3 linked regions of the Homo sapiens genome follow. The gene in region 2 interacts genetically with the main gene of each other region. Each region holds a gene or a part of one and is shown on either strand. Other genes may lie near its edges.

Region 1 (2,335 bases), on a different chromosome or scaffold from region 2:
GCCTGTAATCCCAGCACTTTGGGAGGCCAAGGCGGGCAGATCACCTGAGGTGAGGAGTTTGAGACCAGCCTGGCCAACATGGCAAAACCCCATCTCTACCAAAATACAAAATTTAATCAGGCACGGTGGTGTGTGCCTGTAGTCCCAGCTACTTGGGAGGCTGAGATAAGAGAATTGCTTGAACCCGGGAGGTGGAGGTTGCAGTGGGCTGAGATCATGCCATTGCATTCCAGCCTGGCTTTGTCTTAAAATAAATAAATAAATAAAAAGGTACCCTTCCCCACCTACCTCCGTCCAGAATTATAAAAGTGTTTTTCCATGGCATTTTTATAGTAGAGTTTTTTAAAAAATACTTTTACATTTAAATCTTTTGATCCATCTAGAATTTGTTTTGGTAAGGTATTGGTCTGACTTTTTTCCCCCTGAGATGGTTATATAGTTGTCCAACATCATTTATTTAATAATACAATAACTGTTTTTGATATGGCACTTTTATCAGATGCTAAATTTCTATATATATTGGGGTTATTTCTAGTCTTCTGTTTCATTGATATATCTGTCATTCGTGTGCCAATACCATGCTGTCTTAATTTGTTTATAGATTTGTAAGTATGCTAATTTCTGATAAGGTATCTTTGATATGTTTTCTTTAGGTGCTGTTTTGTCATGGGTCTGTCTATTATGCAAATAATTAAAGTATTTTTACTTTATTTAGTGACAGATTTAACCATATTATATTTTTCTTTATTAAAATTTTTCATGGAAATTAGGATGAAGTAATGGATTATGGGTACACTGTAATTTACCTAATTATATCTAGTGTGGTATATTTAGTTGCTTCCTATTTTATTATTATAACTAATGCTACAAAGGTTATCTTAGTCATAAAACTCCTACTATGTTTAGGATTATTTACTTAATGTAACAGCATAGAAGTGAAATTTTTGGGTCAGTGATTGTGAACATATTTAAAGCTCAATATTTATTGCCACGTTGCTTTTCAAACAGATCATATTGGTTTAGACTGCTATATATACACACACATATATATATAAATGTTGTATTACAGTTTTATTTTTACTTTATTTTTATTACCTTTTTAGGTTTCTTGTGATCAGCCCTTACTGAAAGAAGGATATAAAAGTGCCCAAAAGCGGGCCCCTCAAGGGGAGGCAACCACAGTCTCTGAATATTTCTTCAATGATATCTTCATTGAAGTGGATGAAACAGAATAAAACAATCTTTTCTCTTTTTCTTTTTTAAATTAGGTCTAGGATTTCCAGAGTCAATTACATCAACAAAACAGTATTTAGAGCAAAATATCACTGTCTTATTTTTCTTTAGGTTGATTTTGAATACTTAATGAGCTTGATTTGAAGCTTTTATAATCAGTGGAAAACATTTCTGAGGTTCCTTTCATTCTGACTGATTCAGCATTTTGCAAATAGCAAGCAATTAAGACTGCTTTCTCAGACAGAAATAACAACTCTTGTTTACATTTTGACTCTTCCTGTGCTAAGCACACATGGACATTTGGGAATGTTGTGGATATATGTCTCTGTATGAATTGCAGTGCAGACAGATTTGGGGGTTAATTGTATCATATTTAACATTTAGCAACTTCTTTTGTGAAGATTTTTTATTTTTAGGGGGAGATGATGAAGGATGAAGGCTTTTTCATTTGCTTCTAAGTACAGTCATGTATCACATAATGAAGTTTAAGTCAATGATGGACCACATATATTACAGTGGTCCCATGCAATTAAAATGGAGATAAATTCCTATCAACTAGTGACATTATAGCCATCATAACACAGTGCATTGCTTTTTTATGTTTAGATATGTTTAGATACACAAATACTTACTATTGTGTTACAACTGCCTACAGTATTCAGCATAGTAACACATTGTAGAGGTTTGTAGCCGAGGAGCAATAGGCTATACCACATAGCCTCAGTCTGTACGGTGTGTAGCAGCCTGTACCATCTCAGTGTTTGTAAGTACACTCTGCGTTGTTTCACACAAGATCACCTAACAAGGCAATTCTTAGAACATGTAGTTAAGGGACACGTGACTATATGTGAAAACAAATTGTCAAACTTCACTTTAGTATGGCAAATGTTAAAGAACTTTTCTATTATCAGCTGTTTGTCTGACTGAAAAATACATATTTTTCTAATTCATGGTGATGTAACATTAGTCCTAATTGAAAAACTAGTATTTAAACATAATTATTTATAAAGATGACACATCAAAGGGCTTATTTATTTTTAAATTTTTTATTTAAAAGGATATTCAGTTTTAGCTATTTTTACCCCTCAGATTGTAGATAAAG
Region 2 (3,500 bases):
GGAAACGAGTGTATTATGCATTTGCCATCACGACCCTCTCTTAAGAAGGGAAGTGAGACTGTAATAAAATTTCAGCATCATTAACACCTGGAGTCTTTAAAATCGGCGGTCAAATTGCAATTCTACTGGTGCATGGTGTTCTTCCATCAACAGACACAGCAAGCTGGCTTTTTTAACCCCTTTTACAGAATCTGGGGTTGTATAAATGAGGTTCTCTGCAGCAGGGTATCACAGTAGAAGATTATGGCCCACCAGATGTCCATCAACAGGAGATGAATAAAGCACAGTTCAGTCATGTACAGCAGTGCTCCCTAGCTGCTCTGAGGAAGGAGGCGGCTTTGTGTGTCTGATGTGAATTGGTCCCCGAGCTACCCTGAGCAATGCTGTGTGCAGGGGGTGTACCCAGTTGGCTTCTTTTAGTTGGGTGAGGGTTTCGTGAGTTTTTACTTTATTGTTCTTGTAACTGTACATATAGGTTTTATACACACTTCTTTTGAGACAGAGTGTCGCTCTGTCACCCAGGCTGGAGTGCAGTGGTGCGATCTTGGCTCACTGCAAGCTCTGCCTCCTGGGTTCACGCCATTCTCCTGCCTCAGCCTCTCCAAGTAGCTGGGACTACAGGCGCCCGCCACCATGCCTGGCTAATTTTTTGTATTTTTAGTAGAGACGGGGTTTCACCGTGGTCTCGATCTCCTGACCTCATGATCTGCCCGCCTCGGCCTCCCAAAGTTCTGGGATTACAAGCGTGAGCCACCGCGCCCAGCCTACACACTTCTATGTGTGTATTACACACACACACACACACACACACACAGAACAAGGTATAGCACAGCGGGAAAGCACCCTAAATAGGATTTAAAAAGGACACACTGACCAGGCACAGTGGCTCACGCCTGCAATCTCAGCACTTTAGGAGGCCGAGGCGGGTGGATCACCTGAGGTCAGGAGTTCAAGACCAACCTAACCAACATGGTGAAACCATGTCTCTACTAAAAATACAAAAATTAGCCGGGCATGGTGGCGCATGCTTGTGGTACCAGCTACCCGGGAGGCTGAGGCAGGACAATGGCTTGAACCTGGGAGGCAGAGGTTGCAGTGAGCTGAGATCATACCACTGCACTCCAGCCTGGGCAACAGAGCAAGACCTTGTCTCCAAAAAAAAAAAAAAAAAGAACACGCTCACAGGTGAGTAAGTCTTCCCCCTACCAAGGCTCTGGGGACTGCCCATCCACGGCTGCTGGAGAGAGACCCTCAAGCCTCCTGATGTGAAGACACAGCTCCCACGTGCAGTGGCCTCACCAAAAGTCAAACTTGATTCTCATGAAGGCTCCAGGTCAGGGTTCCTCAATCTCAGCACTATTGACATTTAGGGCCAAATAAGTTTTTGTTTTTCTGTGCATTATAGGCTGTTAACAGCATCCCATGGCTCCACCCGCCAGATGCCAGCAGCACTCCCAAGTTGTCACAGCCCAAAATGTCTCAAGACACTGCCAAATGTCCCTGGGGCAGCGGGGGGCGGCGCGCAAAACTGTTCCGGATGACAGTCACTGCTACAGATCCAAATACTAATGTACAAAAAGCTCAGATGGCAGAGGAGCATGTTTAAAATAAAATTTTAAGGCTGGGCGCAGTGGCTCACGCCTATAATCCCTGCACTCGGGGAGGCCGAGGCAGGTGGGTCACTTCAGGTTGGGAGTTCAAGACCAGCCTGACCAACATGGAGAAACCCTGTCTCTATTAAAAATAACAAAGTTAGCCGGACGTGGTGGTGCATGCCTGTAATCCCAGCTACTCGGGAGGCTGAGGCAGGAGAATCACTTGAACCCGGGAGGTGGAGGTTGCGGTGCGCCGAGATCATGCCATTGCACTCCAGCCTGGGCAACAAGAGCAAAACTCCATCTCAAAAAATAATAAAATAAAATAAAAATTTAAAAATCCAGAAGGTAGGAAACTGTAAGACAAACAACAAATAAACTACAATGGGAAAAAAAAACAAGAAAAGGGTGAGGAGTATCCATGAAACAACAGGAAATTTAACCACTTGCTAGATGTTTGATATTAAAATAAAAGATTAGGTGTGCTAATGGTATTCTGGTCATTTTTAAAAGTCTCTACTTATAGAGATACAAATTGAAATATTTATGGATATAATGCTATGTATAGTGGGTTAAATGGCAGCCTCCCTCAAAGACGTGTTCGTATCCCAGAACTTGCGAACGTGACCCTATTTGGAAAAAGGTTTTGTAGATGTAATTACGTAATTACGTGAAGGATCTCAAGATGAGATGATCCTGAGTATCTGAGCGCGACCTAAATCCAATGAGAAGCGCCCTTCGAAGAGACACACGGAGGAAAGGCCGAGGGAAGAGGGAGGCAGAGATTGGAGTGACGCAGCCACAAGCCAAGGGAACGCCTGGAGCCGCCAGGAGCAGGAAGAGGCCAGGAATGACCCTCCCCTGAGCCCAGTGAGGAGCACCGCCCTGCCAATACCTTGATCTCGGACTTCTGGCCTCCTAAGCTGGGAAGGAACAAATTTCTATTGTCCTAAGCCCCTCAGTTTGTGGTCATTTGTATGACATCCCCAGGAAACTAGTACAGATTCACTGTATGTGGGATTTGCTTCAAAATGACCCAGAGGTGGGAAAGTGACCAGCAGTGGAGATAATCCAAGATTGACCAGGGGCTGATCAATGTTGGAGCTGGCGATGGGCACATGGGAGTTCATCATACTGTTCTCTTTACTCTTGCAAATGTTTGAATTTCCCTTGCAAATGTTTGAATTTCCCATGACAAACTTTTTTCCTCTATGAAAAAATTAAGGTTGGCTGGGCATGGTGGTTCACGCCTGTAATCCCAGCACTTTGGGAGGCCGAGGCGGGCGGATCACGAGGTCAGGATATCAAGATCATCCTGGCTAACATGATGAAACCCCGCCTCTACTAAAAATACAAAAAAAAAAAAAAAAAATAGCCTGACGTGGTGGCACGCGCCTGTAATCCCAGCTACACAGGAGGCTGAGGCAGGAGAATCACTTGATACCAGGAGAACCCAAGATCATTTCACTGCACTCCAGCCTGGGCAACAGAGCAAGACTCCATCTCAAAAAAAAAAAATTTTTTTAAGGTTTGGTAGAGCCAGAAAAGATGTCGGGGGTGGGGGAACAAAACAAAAAAGAAAAAAAAATTAAATTTAAATTAAAAAAAAAAAAAGAAGAAAAAACAAGGAAAAAAGTTTGACATTCTCCGGAACAGTTCAGTTCAGTTCCTCTGCCATAGTAGCTGCATTTCAAGTGCTCAACAGCAATATGTGGTTAGTGGCTACCGCACTGGACCATGCACTGGAATTTTCCTCATTCCAGAAAGTTCTATTAGTTGCACCACAGAGACACCCTCAGGAGGAGAGAGACCCCCCATCTCTCTCTATGCTGGAGAGCCACTTGCAGACCCTGCCCGAGTGGGGTGTACCTGGCTCTTTTTCTCCTTCTGTTCTAAGATTTTCTG
Region 3 (3,497 bases), on a different chromosome or scaffold from region 2:
TTATACAGCACAAAGCCTAAAATCGGCAGGTATCATCTCCAAATTTTAGTACAATCCAATTTACCTGGATTTATCATATGGGATACAGAGTATCAGAATGGCCTTTGTGTCCCTTATATCCAGTATAATCTAACATGTTTCATGAAGCATCAGCATTTATTACAATGGATGTTTAAACTCAACTGAGAAGTTCTGACTTTTAAAAGTTATTTTGTTCATTTTCAATTGGGAAATTTCCTTTTTAGTCACTTAAAGATGTAGACCCAAGATCACCAAGATGGCTACATTTAAGATGCTATCCAAAGAGTAAACATGTACAAGACAGGAGAATGAGGCTTTATTTTCAAAAATGTCCAGACTCGTTCTTGGATCCATTCTTTCTACTTAATTGCAGGTTGCAAATGAATTCTTACTGCTGAGTATTTTGAATCCAGGGTAGGAGACTTGGCTGTTTTTTCCCATCCATTATTCTGTTCAATATGTCAGAAGGTCTGATTGGGAGGAAACCTTTTCAAGTTCTATTGATGCAGCTTTCAATTGACCACGGTGACCTAGCAACATGAGCACTAATTGGCATGGGCTGACTGGCATTTGGTGTACAGTTTACATGGGAACACAGATTCAACGGCTATTATAACCCAGTTTGCTGTCGCAGATTACTAGTCGAAAGAAATGTTTTAATTGTCTTCAAGTGACTATTTTAACTTTGCAGATGCAAAGCAACAGGTATAATGTACTAAATCATAACTTAATTAAAAACTGTCACATAAACAATGTAGCAAGGATATACCTTCTAAAGGCAATCACCATTTAAGACTTTACTTTCTCCTTAAGGCACTTTCCATAACTTCTATTTTATGGAAGGCACTACAAAGAATAAACAGAGGCAAATGCTCCAGTATACTTGAACATCAGAAGCTTTGGGGCCACTGACCATGTTAGGAGGAATTCAATAAAACTTTAAATTCACTGAAGTGCTGACTAGCTGGTAATCAGTTATAACCATATCAGCATAAGAATTTCACTTCCGAGGTCTTAGGGGAAAAAAGCCCGGCGCTGGGCTCATTGGGTAAAGCATTCTTCTCACAGCTATTCAAGCCTGAATCCATCCTCTCTACCCCCACTCTCCTCCCTTCACTTGGAGCTTGCCTTCTTTTTATTAAAACAACACCAGAGATAATTATTTTTGTGTGATGATTCGAAGAAATGAACTGCTCTCTAAAGAACTCTAGAAAGGCTAAAGTTTTTCTTTACAGTTGGTAGCTGAAACCAGAGCTCTAATAACAATGTGTTATAAGTAATTCAGAATACAATTAAAAATAAGTTTTTATCTCAGAAAGAAAATGCATATGGCTAGGGCTTTTAATTATTTTTCAGGACAATTACTAGCACAAATATATTTTAGCAAGAATGCCTCCATCTGTTTTAGCAAGAAGAGCTCCGTGTGCAGAGATAGGAATGGTCTCTTCCAGTCTCTGCAGGAGTGAAGGGCTAAACTAAGGTTTGTGCTGTAACCAAAGTCTCATCAAAACTGGGCCAATTAATGCAAAACCCACGGGCTAAAAACACAATTCACATCTTAACTGTGATCAGTTTTTCTTTTGAGTCTTACAATAATAAAATTCAATTGAGTTTTAGGAAGATCTGCTGGCATAAATAATATACATTATAAATGCAATTCAAAACTATTTTATGTTCCAAAAACAGGTTAAGAACAAAGCCACAGTTTAAAAACGCAAAGTTCTTTTTGTTTGAATTGATTACTTATAATGTTTTTGACAAATATAATTTTTATGAAAAAAATCATCAATAATTAAAATTAAACAGAAGAACAAAGCAAGGATGTCATGTACTACCTTCTTCTGACTTTTATGACAGAAAGGCCTTTATTTTCAACAAGTTTATCACATGTCTAGACTAATTATATATTTTGCAAATACTTACAAAACTAAAAATTTGCCTAGGAAATTATGTTTTAAAATCTGGGATAGAAGCACAGAAACTGACATATCCTAAATTCTAAAAATTAGCAATTAGGCCAGGCACAGTAACTCAGCCTGTAATCCCGGCACTCCAGGAGGCCGAGGCAGGCAGATCACTTCAGCCCAGGAGTTTGAGACCAGCCTAGGCAACATGGGAAAACCCCGTCTCTACTAAAAATACAAAAATCAGCCAGGCATGGTGGTGTGGGAGCCTGTAGTCCCAGCTACTTGGAAGGCTGAAGCATCAGAATCACTTGAACCTGGATGGCAGAAGCTGCAGTGAGCCAAGATCATGACATTACACTCCAGCCTGGGTGACAGAGTGAGACCTTGTCTCAATCAATAAATCAATAAAAGAAGTTAATAAATAAGGCAACTTATTTGAGCCATTTGGCATCGTAGATAGCAACAATTTTTTTAAGTTTCCAAATTGTTTTGGAAAGTTACTGGAGATGTGAACTACTACCAATTTGAATATTTTAAATGTATGCATATGGTAAAATCGGAGTTTTATTTAAAAGATTTTTCATGATTGAGCTTAACACTCATAGGTAAAAAACTAAATGGCTGCCTTGCAAATGACTGAAAAAGAGGCCTCCATTGACAAGAAGAACCCAAACAATGTGGCAAAACTCAAGTGACAAAGGGAACTCCAATGCTGGGTATCTATTAACTCTAGGCTGTGTCTGTGTTGGGAGGATGTTCCTGTTGTATTTTTAAATCTACTGGATATATGGATTATACATACCATCTTAAAGTAGGAAATTATTCAAGAAATGCAATGTAATAAAAAAAAGACACTCAAAATTCTCTTAATAGGATTCTCAACAAACAGTAGCGTCGTGGAAACATACTGAACTAAGAACTGGTAAAACCTGGTTCTGGAACAAAATGGTATCTTTCTTAAATGTCTGTGATGTAAGACTTTTATGATAGAACTCTATTATGCTCACATTTACCTTTTGCTTTCAGGCATAATTTTAAGTATCTGACTAAAACTAAACCAAAAAACATTCCCACAAAACTTGTCACTAACCTGCTGGGTTCACAAAGTCAGAATAATACTAGTACTTGGCTAGGGTAGAATAAGAACAAAACCTGATGGACAGCAGGGTAAGGGAAGGGACAATGATGATGATCTTAGGAAAACTTTTAATGTGAACAGAGGGGAGGAAAGCTGTTGGGGCCTTAGAAGTGGAAACAGATCCTTTACTTCCTTTGAAGTCCCTACGTCTTTATATTACGCTCAGAGTAAATATTCTGGTAAGTTTTGTTCCAGTGAAAAGTTTCTTGGTAAAGAATGGCACAAAAGAGTGACCTTAGGTAAGCTGCTGAACTTCTCTGTGCCTCACTTTCTTCATTTGCAAAAATGTAAACATAACAGCATCTATTTCAATGCACTGCTAGGAGGAATAAATGAAATCATTCTTATTAAAGGATGTTAACACAGTGTTAACACTTTGTAAGCAGACAAACATTTGCCATTATTATTAGTATGGAAAGTGAGCAATAAGA

The links. Genes that interact genetically often act in the same process or in processes that back each other up.
Region 1: changes in DHX37 (region 2) and BDP1 together harm fitness less than expected from each alone (positive genetic interaction), as found in Homo sapiens cells (one large-scale study listed by BioGRID).
Region 3: changes in DHX37 (region 2) and XRN2 together harm fitness more than expected from each alone (negative genetic interaction), as found in Homo sapiens cells (one large-scale study listed by BioGRID).

What each region holds. Positions count from the first base shown.
Region 1 is NC_000005.10:71,563,651-71,565,985, forward strand, and holds part of BDP1 (transcription factor TFIIIB component B'' homolog), read left to right. Parts: exon of another isoform or gene 1-1,103; coding exon 1,104-1,235; 3' UTR 1,236-2,335. UniProt on the Homo sapiens protein: General activator of RNA polymerase III transcription. Requires for transcription from all three types of polymerase III promoters. Requires for transcription of genes with internal promoter elements and with promoter elements upstream of the initiation site.
Region 2 is NC_000012.12:124,982,632-124,986,131, forward strand, and holds part of DHX37 (probable ATP-dependent RNA helicase DHX37), read right to left. Parts: coding exon 3,465-3,500; intron 1-3,464. UniProt on the Homo sapiens protein: ATP-binding RNA helicase that plays a role in maturation of the small ribosomal subunit in ribosome biogenesis. Required for the release of the U3 snoRNP from pre-ribosomal particles.
Region 3 is NC_000020.11:21,383,331-21,386,827, reverse strand, and holds part of XRN2 (5'-3' exoribonuclease 2), read right to left. Parts: intron 1-3,497. UniProt on the Homo sapiens protein: Possesses 5'->3' exoribonuclease activity. May promote the termination of transcription by RNA polymerase II.